Linked DNA regions of Homo sapiens: region 1 is linked to region 2. A link means that fine-mapping ties the variant in region 2 to the expression of a gene that starts in the linked region. Tissue or cell type: prefrontal cortex. Region 2 holds a variant in brackets; the other region holds the start of a gene. All regions are shown on one strand. Distances are from middle to middle.

The links. PIP is the estimated chance that this variant, and not a neighbour inherited with it, causes the effect.
Region 1: CFAP74 starts here. The variant in region 2 is the best candidate, but not a certain one, in a credible set for the expression of CFAP74 in prefrontal cortex (CommonMind, PIP 0.80).

Annotation. Positions count from the first base shown.
Region 1 is chr1:2,000,023-2,006,220 of GRCh38, reverse strand. CFAP74 (cilia and flagella associated protein 74) reads left to right here and starts at 2,435. Exons shown (of 39, transcript NM_001304360.2): 1 at 2,435-2,520. RefSeq lists a silencer at 2,277-2,571.
Region 2 is chr1:1,965,399-1,973,174 of GRCh38, reverse strand. CFAP74 (cilia and flagella associated protein 74) reads left to right here. Exons shown (of 39, transcript NM_001304360.2): 8 at 128-238; 9 at 1,093-1,195; 10 at 2,359-2,516; 11 at 4,342-4,540; 12 at 6,649-6,804. Among named protein-coding and RNA genes, the nearest start is that of CFAP74, 34 kb to the left of the region's middle. RefSeq lists enhancers at 1-344, 1,711-2,492. The variant C/T (reference allele first, on the strand shown) is at 4,512.

The DNA of each region.
Region 1 (6,198 bases), 34 kb before region 2:
GGGCTTGAGCAATCCATCCTGCAGCTTCCCAAGTAGCTGGGACTACAGGCTCAAGCCACCATGCCTGGCTCAATTTTTTTTACTTAACAATATGTTCTGGAGTCACTCCACAGCAGAACATAGAAATAAATGGTCCTTATACCTTCTTTACAGCTGACCTCCATCGTGTAGCTGTTCCACAGCTTCCTTAACCAACCAGTTCCATGGACACGGGGCTGTTCTCAGGCTGTCACTGTCCTTTCCTTCTTTCCTAGACAGTATATATATATATATAGAGAGAGAGAGAGAGAGAACGAGAGAGAGAGAGAGAGAGAGAGTTGGAGTCTCGCTCTGTTGCCCAGGCTGGAGTGCAGTAGTGTGATCTTGGCTCACTGCAAACTCTGCTTCCTAGGTTCAAGTGATTCTCCTGTGTCAGCCTCTCGAGTAGCTGGGATTACAGGCATGCGCCACCACGCCCAGCTAGTTTTTGTATTTTAGTAGACAGGGGTTTCACCATGTTGGCCAGGCGGGTCTCGAACTCCTGACCTCAGGTGATCCACCTGCCTTGGCCTCCCAAAGTGCTGGGATTATAGGCGTGAGCCACTGTGCCCGGCCCTTTCCTAGAAAGTATATTAACAGTTCATTGGGAAAGGTCCAGGGAGGCAAAGTTGATAAGGAAGAAGCCCTATCATTTCCGTGGAGTCGGGAAGAAGTATAATCTCTCTTATAAAAGCGAACCTGGGCTGGTAATGGTGGCTTGGTTCTATTCCTCAGATTCTGAGGAGGAAAGCGATCTGGCACTGCGGAAGGTGGGTGAGTGCAGAGGTGCTGTGGTGTCACCCAGCTACTTTCCACAGCCATTCTCACGGGTGCTGGGCATTCTGCAAGGTGTCTTGCCTCTGATGGATCAGGTTATGGGCCAGGATAAAACCAAAGGACCTCCCAGGCCTCACTGTGGCATCAGGAGCCGGCCACCCTGCAAGCCCTACACATGGCGGGCTGAAAGACTGCCAGGGTAGGGGACGCGTCCAATTCACTCGTGAGCCCAGTTCTTGGCATAGAGTGGCCCGGTGAGAGACCACTCCCTTTCCTCACACTCCCATGTCTCCATTGCAAACGGCCCCCACGGACCAGCGGTGCGAGAAGAGGCTCCGGTGTAACAGGATGCACAGTGAGATGGGCTGGGCAGCGGGGGATGGGGACTGTGGGAAAGGCAATGGGGAACGTCGGAACCGGCTTGGCATGTTGGGCCCATCTTCCGTTTTGTTTTTTGTTTGTTTGTTTGTCTTGAGACAGAGTCTCGCTCTGTCGTTCAGGCTGGAGTGCAGTGGCGCAATCTTGGCTCGCTGCAACCTCCACCTCCCGGGTTCAAACGATTCTCCTGCCTCAGCCTCTGGGGTAGCTGGGACTGCAGGTGTGCGCCACCACACCCGGCTAATTTTTGTATTTTTAGTAGAGACAGGGTTTCACCATGTTGACCAGGATAGTCTCGAACTCCTGACCTCAAGTGATCTGCCCAACTCAGCCTCCCAAAGTGCTGGGATTACAGGCATGAGCCACTGTGCCCAACCGGGTTTTTGCTGTTTTTAATTTTGAAACAGGGTCTTGATTTCGCTCAGGCCAGAGTGTGATGGCACCATCATAGCTCACTGACTTTGCTATTTACTTTTACAATTTTTCAGTTGGAGCCTTTGCTGGAACATAACATTCAGAAGTCTTTTTTTTTTTTTTTTTTTTTTTGAGCCGGAGTCTCACTCTGTCATCCAGGCTGGAGTGCAGTGGTACGATCTTGGCTCACTGCAACCTCCTCCTCCTGGATTCAAGCGATTCTCCTGCCTCAGCCTCCTGAGTAGCTGGGATTACAGGCAGCTGCCACCATGCCCTGCTAATTTTTGTATATTTAGAAGAGACGGGGTTTCACCATGTTGGCGAAGCTGGTCTCGAACTCCTGACCTCAAGTGATCCGTCCACCTCGGCCTCCTAAATTGTTGGGATGACAGGTGTGAGCCACCGCGCCCAGCCCGATCTTCCATTTGCAAGAGAAGAGGAAAATCCCCATTTTCACGGGAAACCTCCTAGTTTTTTAGGTTGACAAACGACTCCAAACCATCATGCACCCGCCCCGGTCCTCTGGGCCAACGCGCCGGTGCTGAGCTCCTCCAGGCCCCCCAAGTCTGTCTGTCACCTCCAAGCCTTGGCCCTGGGCCAGGCCTGGCTGTCTGGGACCCCGGAGACGTCCCCGCCCCGCGGCCTGTGGCCTGGCCCTTCAGCCGCGCCTCGGGGCCCGCGACCTCCTTGCCCCGGCCCCGGCCCGCGCGGTCGGTGGTGGGTCGGACCAAACCACCCGCTCCAGCCGGGGAGCAGAACGGGCGAGGCTCCCCCTCCGGCCACGATGGAGTCTTCCGTTGCCATGGAGCTGCCCGCCCCAAACCACGCCGCCGGCGCCGCGGAGGGCAATCGCCAAGGACCGCCGCCTGCCTGAGCAGCCCGGGGTGTCTGTGCCTCCGGAGCCCGAGAACCTGGGACCCAGGCCAGCCAGAGGTGGGTGTGGGGGCGGATGCGTTTGACCCTGGGGCTGAGCTGGAAGGGTTTGACCCCCGCCCCCCAGGCAGAACTCCGTCCCATATGAAACGCCTTTCCCGGAAAGCTGTGCCAGAAAAATGACTTTGTTAATAGTTCTAGTCCCTGGTTCGTTTCAGGGAACCCCGGCGCTGGCACAGCCTCTGTTGAGGGACCCGCCCCTGACTTTGCAGCAGATGTTATAATAAAGTATTATTATAACACATTTACAAAAACATTAAACAAAAATCAAGGGCCAGCCTGTCTGGTGAACAGTTAAGACTCGTGAGTGTCTGCCTAGCTAAAAAGGAGAGCATGGTCCATAGCCCCAAAGTCATTTAGTTTTAGTATGTATAACCTAGTTTTGGAAGCTGATTTGCCTCTAGTATTTTGTTTTTCTTAAAGGAATACTCCTTTTATCTGCATAAGCCAGGTACTGAGGTAGTAAGCAGGCCTGCTGTAGGGCCCACAGTTGAAAAGAAATGGACTGATATTCTCTGCATAACGATGGTGCATAAATGCGCATGTGCGACTTAGAGATTGGTTATAAATCGAACATCAGTAGCCACTACCCAAGTTAAGAAATAGAACCTCATCAGCACCCCAAAGTCTCTCCCCCATGCCACTCACAGACCCGCTCTTCTTGACCATGGCTGACTTTTTCTTTAGTTTTACTACCTATGCATGCGTCCCTAAACAATATAGTTAACTTTCACTTATTTTAAACTTTATATAAACTTTATATTTATATAAAATTTTAAAGATGATATATAAATTTCTTTAGTTTTACTACCTATGCATGTGTCCCTAAACAATATAGTTAACTTTCACTTATTTTAAACTTTATATAAACTTTATATAAAATTTTAAAGAATATATGTGGTGTTATATAAACAATATATAATATAAATATATAGACTATATATAATGCCACATATAGTTTTATGTAAGTTTAATAATATATATTAAACTTCATATAATACTACATATATTCTTTAAATTTTTGTTTTTTTGAGACAGAGTCTCACTGTGTTGCCCAGGTTGGAATGCAGCAGGGCGATCTCGGCTCACTGCAACCTCCACCTCCTGGGTTCAAGCGATTCTCCTGCCTCAGCCTCCCAAGTAGCTGGGATTATAGCATGCCTGGCTAATTTTTGTATTTTTAGTATAGACGGGGTTTCCGCGTGTTGGCCAGGATGGTCTTGAACTCCTGATCTCAAATGATCCACCCACCTCCGCCTCCCAAAGTGCTGGAATTACAGGCGGTGAGCCACCACACCCAGCCAACTTTCATTTATTTTAAATTTTATATAAATTTATTTATATAAAATTTTAAAGAATATGTGTGGTATTATATAAGGTTTATATAAGTTTAATAATATATATAAACTTTATGTAATACCACATACATTCTTTAACATTTTTTGAAACAATCCCAAACTTGTATAAAAGTTGCAAGCTCAGCACAAAAAAACTTCTCGTGAAGGATTTGAGAGTAAGTTGCCTTCATGATGCTCTGTCGCCCCCCACCCTTGTAGAGTGTATTTTCCACAAACGAGGACATTCTCCAACACAGCCACACATGGCCCGAGTCAGGAGAGGACACAGGCCTGTTGCCGTGTTTACCCCTCAGCCTGTCAAACACGCTTTGCCAGTTGATTGCATCAGGGCCCCAGCGTGGAAGGATCCAGCCTAGAGTCACTTTGCACTGAATTCTCACATACCTCTTTATTCCCCTTCAGTCCAGAACATTCCTTGGCCTTGCTTTGGCTGTCATGACCCTGACACCTCTGAAGGTCATGGGCCAATTACTTTGGAGAAAGTCCCTCCATTTGGTTTCGTCTGCTGTGTCCTCGTGATTAGATTCCCACTGCACGTCTCGGACAGGAAAGTCGCAGAGGTGACACCGTGGCCTGTTCATTCCATCCAGTCAGTGGCTCACAGTGGTCACGTTGTCACGTTACTGATGATGTTCACTTTGAGCTCTTGATTAAGGTGGTATCTGCCAACATCTCCACTGGGAAGTTCTTTTTTCCTTCGTAATTAACAAGCATTTTGGCCGGGTGCAGTGGCTCACGCCTGTAATCCCAGCACTTTGGGAGGCTGAGGAGGGCGGATCACGAGGTCAGTAGATCGAGACCATCCTGGCTAACACGGTGAAACCGTCTCTACTAAAAATACAAAAATTAGCCAGGTGTGGTGGCGGTTGCCTGTAGTCCCAGCTACTCGGGAGGCTGAGGCAGGAGAATGGCGTGAACCCAGGAGGCGGAGTTTGCAGTGAGCCGACCCTGCGCCACTGCACTCCAGCCTGGGCGACAGAGCGAGACTCCGTCTCAAAAAAAAAAAAACAAAATGAAAAACAAAACAAAACAAAAACACAAGCATTTTGTAGGAGGTATTTGGAAGCTATGCAAATATGTCATCACTCCCAGGCTTGGCCTGGGAGGCTCTCATGGTGGACACCTTCTTCTCCTGCCTGGGCTCTGATACCCTCTGCTGGACCACACCTGGGGCCGCCCTCTTTCTTCTCAGGCTCTGACATCCAGCTCTGAGCCTCAGCCACGCACACCGGCACCCTCCTCACCCAGCCAGGCACCTGCAAACAGCTCTGAGCCTCAGCCACATACCCTCACCCTCCTCACCCAGCCAGGCTCCGACAGCCCAGCCTGGGCCACTGTGGATCCTGCTCCACCTGCCCTACCCAGGGAACCTACTGTGACAGTGAAGGGAAGGGGGAGAGGAAGAGCATCAGGCGGGCCTCTGTCTTTTTCTCCTCGGGGTTGTGCGAGAGATTCATCCACACAGTGGCACCGTGGCCATCGGGGCTGTCTCTAAGCCTCAGGACCTGAGAATATGACCTTATTTGGACTTACAGTGATGCCTGTAAGTAGCTAAGAGGAGGACATACTAGAATAGGGTGAGTGCCTCATCTGGTATGACCGGTGTCCTTATAAAAAGGAGAAATTTGGACATACAAATGCACACAGAGAGAATGTCCTATGAAGATTGGAATTTTGCTGCCACAAGCCACAGAACTAGCAGAAGCTAAAAGAGAGGCCTGAAACAGGCCCTTCCCTCGTGCCTTCAGAGGAAGCATGGCCCTGCCATCAACTCGGTTTTAGACGATGGCTTCCAGAACCGTGAGACAACTCTGTTGTTGAAGCCACCTAGGTTGTGGTACTTTGTTATGGCGACCCCGGGAAGCTAACACAACAGGTGGGATTTTCTGTAGGGTGTGCTCCTGGGAGAGGAATCGCAGAGCCAGAGGGTGCCATAGGCAGGATGATCTCCCCCTTCCCCAAAAAACCCATGTCCTGGTCCTCCGAACCCATGCGCGTGTTAGGGGACGTGGCACGTCCTTAACTGTGAAGTGCCTGTTGACGTCTTTTGCCCATTTTGCTGTGGGGCTGTCTGTCTTTATCCATTCATGGATATTCCTTACATGGTCTTGACAGTAAAATTCTGGGTTATGTGCTGTGATTGTCTTCTACTTTGTAGGTTTTCTTTTTTCTTTTTTTTGAGATGGAGTCTCGCTCTGTCGCCCAGGCTGGAGTGCAGTGGCACGATCTCAGCTCACTGCAACCTCCACCTCACCAGTTCAAGCAACTCTCCTGCTTCAACCTCCTGAGGAGCTGGGACTCCAGGCGCCTGCACCACACC
Region 2 (7,776 bases):
GTGCGGGACAGAGCTGAGCGAAAGGGCCCACGGCGTCTCTGGGACACGAGCTCCAGCCGTGCAGGGCTTGGGGGCAGATGGGACGTGTGATGCCGAGTTTCCCTCTGACGGCCCCATATCCCCACAGGAAGTCCCTGAACACCCAGAAGGAGCTCGGGCTCAGGCACCAGAAGCTGCTGGAGGACGCCCGGAAGAACCACAAGGTTGCCGTGCGGTTCCTGAAGGCCTCCCTGGGAAGGTAGGGCCTCCCTTCGACGTCCTTAAGGAGAAACCCAAGAATACGGGTCACTTGCTTTTGTCTTGAAATGCCCTGATTTTATTATTTATTTATTTAAGATGGAGCCTTGCTCTGTCGCCCAGGCTGGGGTGCCGTGGCGCGATCTCGGCTCACTGCTCCGCCTCCCGGGTTCAAGCGATTCTCCTGCCTGAGCCTCCTGAGTAGCTGGGATTACAGGCACGCGCCACCATGCCCGGCTAATTTTTGTATTTTTAGTAGAGATGGGGTTTCACCATGTTGACCAGGCTGGTCTTGAACTCCTGACCTCAGGTGATCTGCCCGCCTCAGCCTCCCAAAGTGCCGGGATTACAGGCGTGAGCCACTGCACCCAGCCTCCTGATTTTATTATTGAATCACCACCTTATCATCAAAAACCAATAAGTGTGTATTTTTAGTGCTGAGGTACTGTTTCTTTTCAGAAGAGGCCCTTGAGATGCGCTGGGCGTGTTCCCGCCATGTCCTCGTGGCCTGGCCCTCCAGGGCATGTTCCCACCATGTCGTCATGGCCCGGCCTCTGCGCCAGCACCTTTTGCCCATCCCACCTCTTGTGTTCTCACCATTAATCACATTCCTGGTGGAAATGATAGCACCGAGGCTCCTGTAATTAACACCCCACACGGCATCGCTGTGTCACTTCCTCGGTTAAAAATGTGGCCGTTTGTGGTGGTGCATGCCTGTGATCCCAGCGCTTTGGGAGGCTGAGACAGGAGGATCACTTGAGCCTGGGAGGTCGAGGCTGCAGAGAGCTGTGATCGCACCACTGCACACCAGCCTGGGCGACAGAGCCTCAAAAATGTTTAAATGTCCTTCCTCAGAATCCGAGAGCAAGAGAAGAAGGAGGAGATGGAGTGCCACGAGTACATGAGGCGACGCATGGATGCGGTGGTGGCGCTGAAGGGCAGCATCTCCGCGAACCGGGTAGGCCCCCGCAGCCCCACCCAGCCTCTCCCTTGGCGCCCTGCCGGGGTCCGTCCCTGGGCCCCTGCTCCTTGGGAGCCAGGCCCGTGTCCTCTGGCGTCCAGGGCTGACCCGCGCACTTGGTGACCCCTGGAGGCTTCCCGAGCCTGTGCCACAGATTTGCCCACGGGTTCCGTGTGGGTCAGGGCCAGGCACTGGAGTCAGGCAGGAGCAGGCACCCCAGCCCTGCTCCCATGGGGCCTGGTCTTGTTGGGGAAGCAGTGGCGTCCTCATGAGACACATGGAGGGCCTGGGTGCCTCGAGGCCATGCCCTGGGGCCAAGGCTGGGGATTCAGGCTGGGAAAATGGAGGGAAGAGTGGGAACAGCATCTGCAAAGGCTCAGAGGTGAGGAGCAGAGGCGGGCAGGTGACGTGCAGGGACACCCAGCCCCACGCTTGGGATGTGCGGACAGTTTGCCAGTGGTCTCTCACAGGATCTGCAGGCGTCAACATTGGTTTAAGGACATCTGTTCAACGGCCCAGTGTGTGAGCATGTGTGTGTGCACGTTTGCATGTGTGTGTGCATGTGTGCATGTGTGACCGTGTGTGCACGTGTGTGCATGTGTGACCGTGTGTGTGCAGGTGTGCATGTGTGTGCACGTGTGTGCAGGTGTGCAAGTGTCTGCAGGTGTGCATGTGTGAGCGTGTATGTGCACGTGTGTGCAGGTTTGCATGTGTGTGCATGCGTGAGTGTGTGCATGTGTGTGCAGGCGTGCACGCGTATGTGTGCAGGTGTGCATGTAAGCACGTCTGTGCACGTGTGTGCAGGTGTGCATGTGTGTCCAGGTGTGCATGTGCGAGCATGTGTGTGCACGTGTGAGCATGTGTGTGCACACGTGTGCAGGTGTGCATGTATGAGTGTGTGCAGGTGTGCGTGTGTGAGCATGTGTGTGCACGTGTGTGCAGGTGTGCATGTGTGATGTGTGCATGTGCAGGTGTGCGTGTGTGTGTGCACGTGTGTGCAGGTGTGCATGTGTGATGTGTGCATGTGCAGGTGTGCATGTGTGTGTGCACGTGTGTGCACGTGTGCATGTATGAACCTGTGTGTGCACATGTGCAGGTGTGAGCGTGTGCATGTGCCCGTGGGTGCTGCTGCTGTCATCTCAGTGCTCTCTGTTTCCAAGGACACACTGCGGAAGTTCCAAGCATGGGACCGTGCCAAGGCAGAGCTGGCGGAGCAGAGGGTCCAGGCTGAGAAGAAGGCGATTCTGGCCCAGGGCAGGGATGCATTCAGGCACCTTGTCCACCAGCGCCGGCGCCAGGAGCTGGAGGCCCAGAAGAGGTGAGGGTGGTGGCAGAGGTGCCACCGGGAGGCACCCGCCCAGTCAGTGGGTGCAGGGAGAGCCAAGGGGGTTCGGCTTCACATTGAGCAAAGCTGCTCTCTCTCCCAGGGCGCCCACTCAGGCGGCTGTGGGGCACGGGAACAGGGGCTCCAGGCTGCTACCCTTGCCCTGCCTGGGCCTGACTCAGCCTGCCCAGCCCTGCCCCTACTCCAGTCCACGCCCAACCCTCGGCCCCTTCTCCCCTCCCAGACGCTGAAACCCCGGCCCCTGTCGAGAGCCTCCGGCTCCTGTCCTGACTTCTCACAAGGAGGGACTGGCGGGCTCTTTCCTGGCCCACCCAGAAGTCTCCAGGGAGCACCAGGCCCCTCCAGGGAACCTGGTGCTGCTGGGCCTGCCCTTGCTCACTCCCTGTCCAGGGCCGTCCACCTGGCTTCCTGCTGCCACGGCCTTGGGGCCCTCCTGGCCCCTCAGACCACCTCCTGCCAGCTTGGGTCCGTGGTGAACACGTTGCTTCTGGCTTCACTCTCTGTTCTTCTCCAAACGGGGGCCCATGTTGCCCTCTCGGACCCCCCACCCACGGGCCCCACTGGGCTTCCTGAGATCCAGACCTCGGGGCCAGGTTCCTACAAGGCCCCTCTCTCCCGCTCAGTCTCGCCTTTCCCAGCCCTGCCCGTAACGCTCCCCAGTGACCTCCACGCAAACCACCCTGTCCTGGGTTTTGCCCGAAGCTGCCCTCATCCCGGGAGCCTGGCCCTTTCTCCCCATCCCAGTCTCCCTGTCCACGGCCCTGGCCAATCACTGCTTAGGATCTGCCTGGGCGGGGGCTCCTGGCCCTCTCACTGGGCAAGGCATCCTCCTCTGGGTGCCACAGAGCCCTGAGTGCGTCCTCCCCACCCCCCTGAGTCACGATCAGAGTTCTCCACCACCCATCAGCCTGCCCACCTGGGCGGGGGGGTCCTGGCAGCAGCTCCACCGCCTATACATCCCTTAGCCTGGCGCAGGCCTGGCATGTAGGAGGCACCCGGGAAGTGCAGCTGCAGTGAGTGGATGAACATCTTTAGCCCTGGTGCTACTCTCAGTGGCAGCCCCACGCCAGCCTAGAAATAAGGGCTTGGAAGAAGCCCTCCGGGCAGCCAAGGCTGCTGGGGGACTGGGCTGCGAAGTGGGCAGGGCTGGGCCGGGCAGGGCTGGGCTGGGCAGGGCTGGGCAGGACTGGACTTGGAAGGGATGGGCTGGGCTGGGCAGGGCAGGGCTAAGCTGGGCAAGGCTGGGCTTGGCAGGGCTGGACTGGGAAGGTCTGGGCTGGGCTGGGCAGGGCAGGGCTGGGCAAGGCAGGGCTGGGCAGTGCAGGGCTGGGCTGGGAAGGCCTGGGCTGGGCAGGGCAGGGCAGGGCTGGGTTGGGCAGGGCTGGGCAGGGCTGGGTTGGGCAGGGCAGGGCTGGGCAGGGCTAGGCTGGGCTGGGCAGGGCTGGGCAGGGCTGGGCAGGACTGAGCAGGACTGGGCTTGGCAGGGATGGACTGGGCAGGGCAGGGCTGGGGTTTAAGCCTGGAACCTCTGGCTTGGCCTCTGCCCATCTGCTTCCCACTGGAGCTTGCGTTTAGCTCCAGGACCAGGAAGTTCCCACCCCAAGAGCCCTGCTGGGTAGGATGGAGTCCCCAGGAGGGAGCTAGGGAGGGGCCGCCAGGCGCTGTCTCACCTGGGGCTGCTGGGCAGGACCGGAGCCCCCAGGAGGGCGCTAGGGAGGGGCCGCCGGGCACTGTCTCATCTGGGGCAAGGTGGAGGCAGGGGACCTCTTGCACTCATCTGAGAAGCGACTCCACGCAGGGCCTTTGAGGAGGAGCAGAAGCTCAGAAAGCAGGAGATCATCAGTCGGATTCTGAAAGAGGAGGCTGAGGAGGAAAAGAGGAAGAAACAGCATCCCCCCACCAGTGCCAGGCACCGGCTGACCCTGAGGGACAAGACCTGGAACTACATTTCTGACTTTTGCAAGAAGA[C/T]CACAGTCCCAACCAACACGTACACACTGGTGAGCAAAACGCCTTCCTGTAGACAGAAGCCGCACACCTGTGGAGGGCAGGTGGGGCCTCAGGGCTCAGGTGTGGTGAGACATCCTCTGAGGACCTCAGCACCATGGCCACCTGCAGGGGGTTGCTGAGCCCGCTGAGTGGCCGCCACTCAGCTCAAGGACAAGGGGACAAGACACACTACGGACCCACCACATGAGAGAGGCCCATGGCCGCAGCATCCCCAGCAAGGGTCCAGTGTCCTCCTGGTCTCGGTGTGCCCACCAGACCCTGCGTCACCCCCAGCAGTGTTGCTGCCCACCAGGCTGGGACCACCTTGCCTGGCCCTGTAGAGCTGGGTCAGCCGCCTGCCAGGGAGATGTGCACAGCCGTTCAGACCACATGCCTGGGATCACCCTGCTACAAAGCACTCCTGATAGCACCTAGAGGACAGCTTTCCTATCACTCATTCATTCACTCACTCATCCTTTATTCGTTCACTCACTCATTCTTTCTTCATTCATTCACTCACTCATTCTTCATTCATTCACTCATTCATTCACTCATTCACTCTTTACTCATTCACTCATTCATTCACTCACTCACTGATACACTTATTCATTCACTCATTCACTCATTCATTCACTCATTCGCTCACTCATTCACTCATTCATTCTTTACTCATTCACTCATTCACTCACTCACTGATTCACTCATTCATTCATTCACTCACACATTCACTTATTCACTCACTTACTCATTCACTCACTCACTCACATCCAGGGCCTGCTTGGTGTCCACTGCTGCTGCAGGCAACTGGCTTCAGTTGGGGGAATGTATTTCTAGTTTACCTTTCCCTAAAGGTGTGGGGTAGGGACGATGGTCCTCTCCTGAGTCTGGCACAGTGCTGCAGTCTCTGCCCTTGTGTACCCCAAAACCTGAAGGTCAAGGTCACTGCTGCAACCGATGCCCTGCTGGGAAAGAGAAAGCCTTGGGCTGCCTCAGCTTTGGCCTCCACAGGGTCTCTGCGGTGCCCTTCAGGGCACCAGAGAAGGTCCTTTCCTGCTACCCAGGCTCCCAGTGCCTGGGCTGAGCCTTTGCCCCATCCACCCCTCACTGCCCGTCTCACGCCGGGGCCTTTGCACCCGCCGATCCCTCCGCCAGGAGCACCCTGCTGCGCCTCCTTGCTCCAGAGAAGCCTCCCCTGCCCCCACCCCCACCCGTGAGCTGCTCCCTGCGATTTTCTGTGGCACCACCTGTGGCACTATACAGGTCACAGTAACAGCAATGCGCTGGCCCCGTCCAGACTTCCTGTCTGTCGCTCCATAGGACGGTCCCCAGGAAGAAGAACCCTGTCTACCCGGCCCAGTTCCCCCTTCTCCAGCAGGCCTGGGACAGAGCCAGAGCAGATAGGCAAGGCTCCGTCCCCAAACTCATTCTGAGGAAACCACCACAGCCATCCTCCTGGGGTCAGCCTGGGGCTTTTCCCGGGCATGGCTTATATCCACAGAAATGAGAACTGCGCCAGGCGCGGTGGCTCACACCTGTAATCCCAGTACTTTGGGAGGCTAGGGTGAGTGGATCATGAGATCAAGAGTTCGAGACCAGCCTGGCCAACATAGTGAAACCCCATCTCTACTAAAAATACAAAAAATTAGCTGGGTGTGGTGGCGGGCGCCTGCAATCCCAGCTACTCGGGAGGCTGAGGCAGGAGAATCATGTGAACCCGGGAGATAGAAGTTGCAGTGAGCTGAGATCGCGCTGCTACACTCTAGCCCAGGTGACAGTGCAAGACTGCGTCTCAAAAAAAAAAAAAAAAATGAGAACAGATGAGTGCCTGAGGATCGGCGCCAAGGATGCCAGTCCGTGAATTAGAACATTTTCCTATCAAAGGAAATATTTTGCAGACTCTTCTGAGCATTGTAGAAAAATATTTAATAATGTATTAAAATACTTATATTTCAAGTAGAAAAAGTTACAAAACCGTGTGCACCGCTATCTCCATGCAGAGTACGTGAGGCAGAAGAACGGGGGCAGGCAGCGGGCCATACCGGCGGGGGCTGGGCCGAGTTTCTCTTCCCTGTTCTCTGTCATGAGCGTGTCTTTGCGATGTTCCTCTCCCCGACTGCAGGACTACGAGGCTGCTGCAGGCCCCGGGCCCTCTCGGTTGCTGGAAGTCGTTTCCAGTGAGCTTATCCAGGGGGACCCCGGGGCCAGCTCAGAGGAGGAAACGTTAGCTGAGCCCGAGATCTCTGGGCTTTGGAATGAAGACTACAAGCCATACCAGGTATCAGCTCCTGCTCCTTTAGACGCTTGCAGACGGACCCCGGCCCTCTGTCGCCGGCTCGCCACCTCCCACGCCTGCCCCGGCCACACCAGCTGCTCTGAGGCTTCTCCTGGCTGTGCCTGCCATCTCCCGCCACCCTCTCCTGTGTGTGGACGCCCCCCGCCTCCCTCTCCACACTCATGCCTTTCCCTCTTCGCGGAGCCTGGAGGGCACCACGCGTGCTCGACGACCCCAAGCTCCCCCTGACAGACAGCTCGGTCACCATGGTGTAACGGGGAGGGACGGTGGGGCTCCAAAGCTGAAAGGCTGAGGGAATGACTCTGAGCTACTCCGTGTACTATTGGAGAAGCATCTTTCTAGAAGAAGCGTGCAAACTTTCTTTGACGGCCTTTTGTAAGAAACATGCCCCATCTGGCGCTGGGGTCCTTCTGCCTCTGAAAGAGCAGTTACAGCAAGACACGGTCTCTGCAGCAGTGTGGCTCAGGCTGTGGCCCTGTCCCACGTGGGAGGGCAATGCCCGCCGCCCGGTTTCTGTAAGCATTGGCCACCTCTACTGTCAGGGCAAAAGCCACCTGGTTCTGCTGGTTCTGGGGATGCCGGGCTGACCAGGGTGGTGAACAAGACAGGCCAGGCAGAGCCACCACCTGCCCACTGGGGACACCCAAGGGAGAAGGCTGCCTCTGGACAAGAGGAGGGTGCCAAGTGCCCCCCCCACCCCGGGAAGCCAGGGAGGAGGCTGCCCGGCTGCCGGGCATGGGCACCAGCAGGGACAGCCCACAGCCCAGAGCCAGGACCCACGCAGAGTCCAAGCAGCTTCTGAAGGGACAGTTCAGGACTCCAGTTCTGATCTTCCTGGTTGCTGGTGTTGGCCAGGGAAGCGGCTTTTCATCTGAGAAAGCCCAGTGTGTGCTGACACTGCCCGCTCGAGAAAACTGCTTCCTGCAGAACCTTTCAAAACCTTCCTCTTGTCCT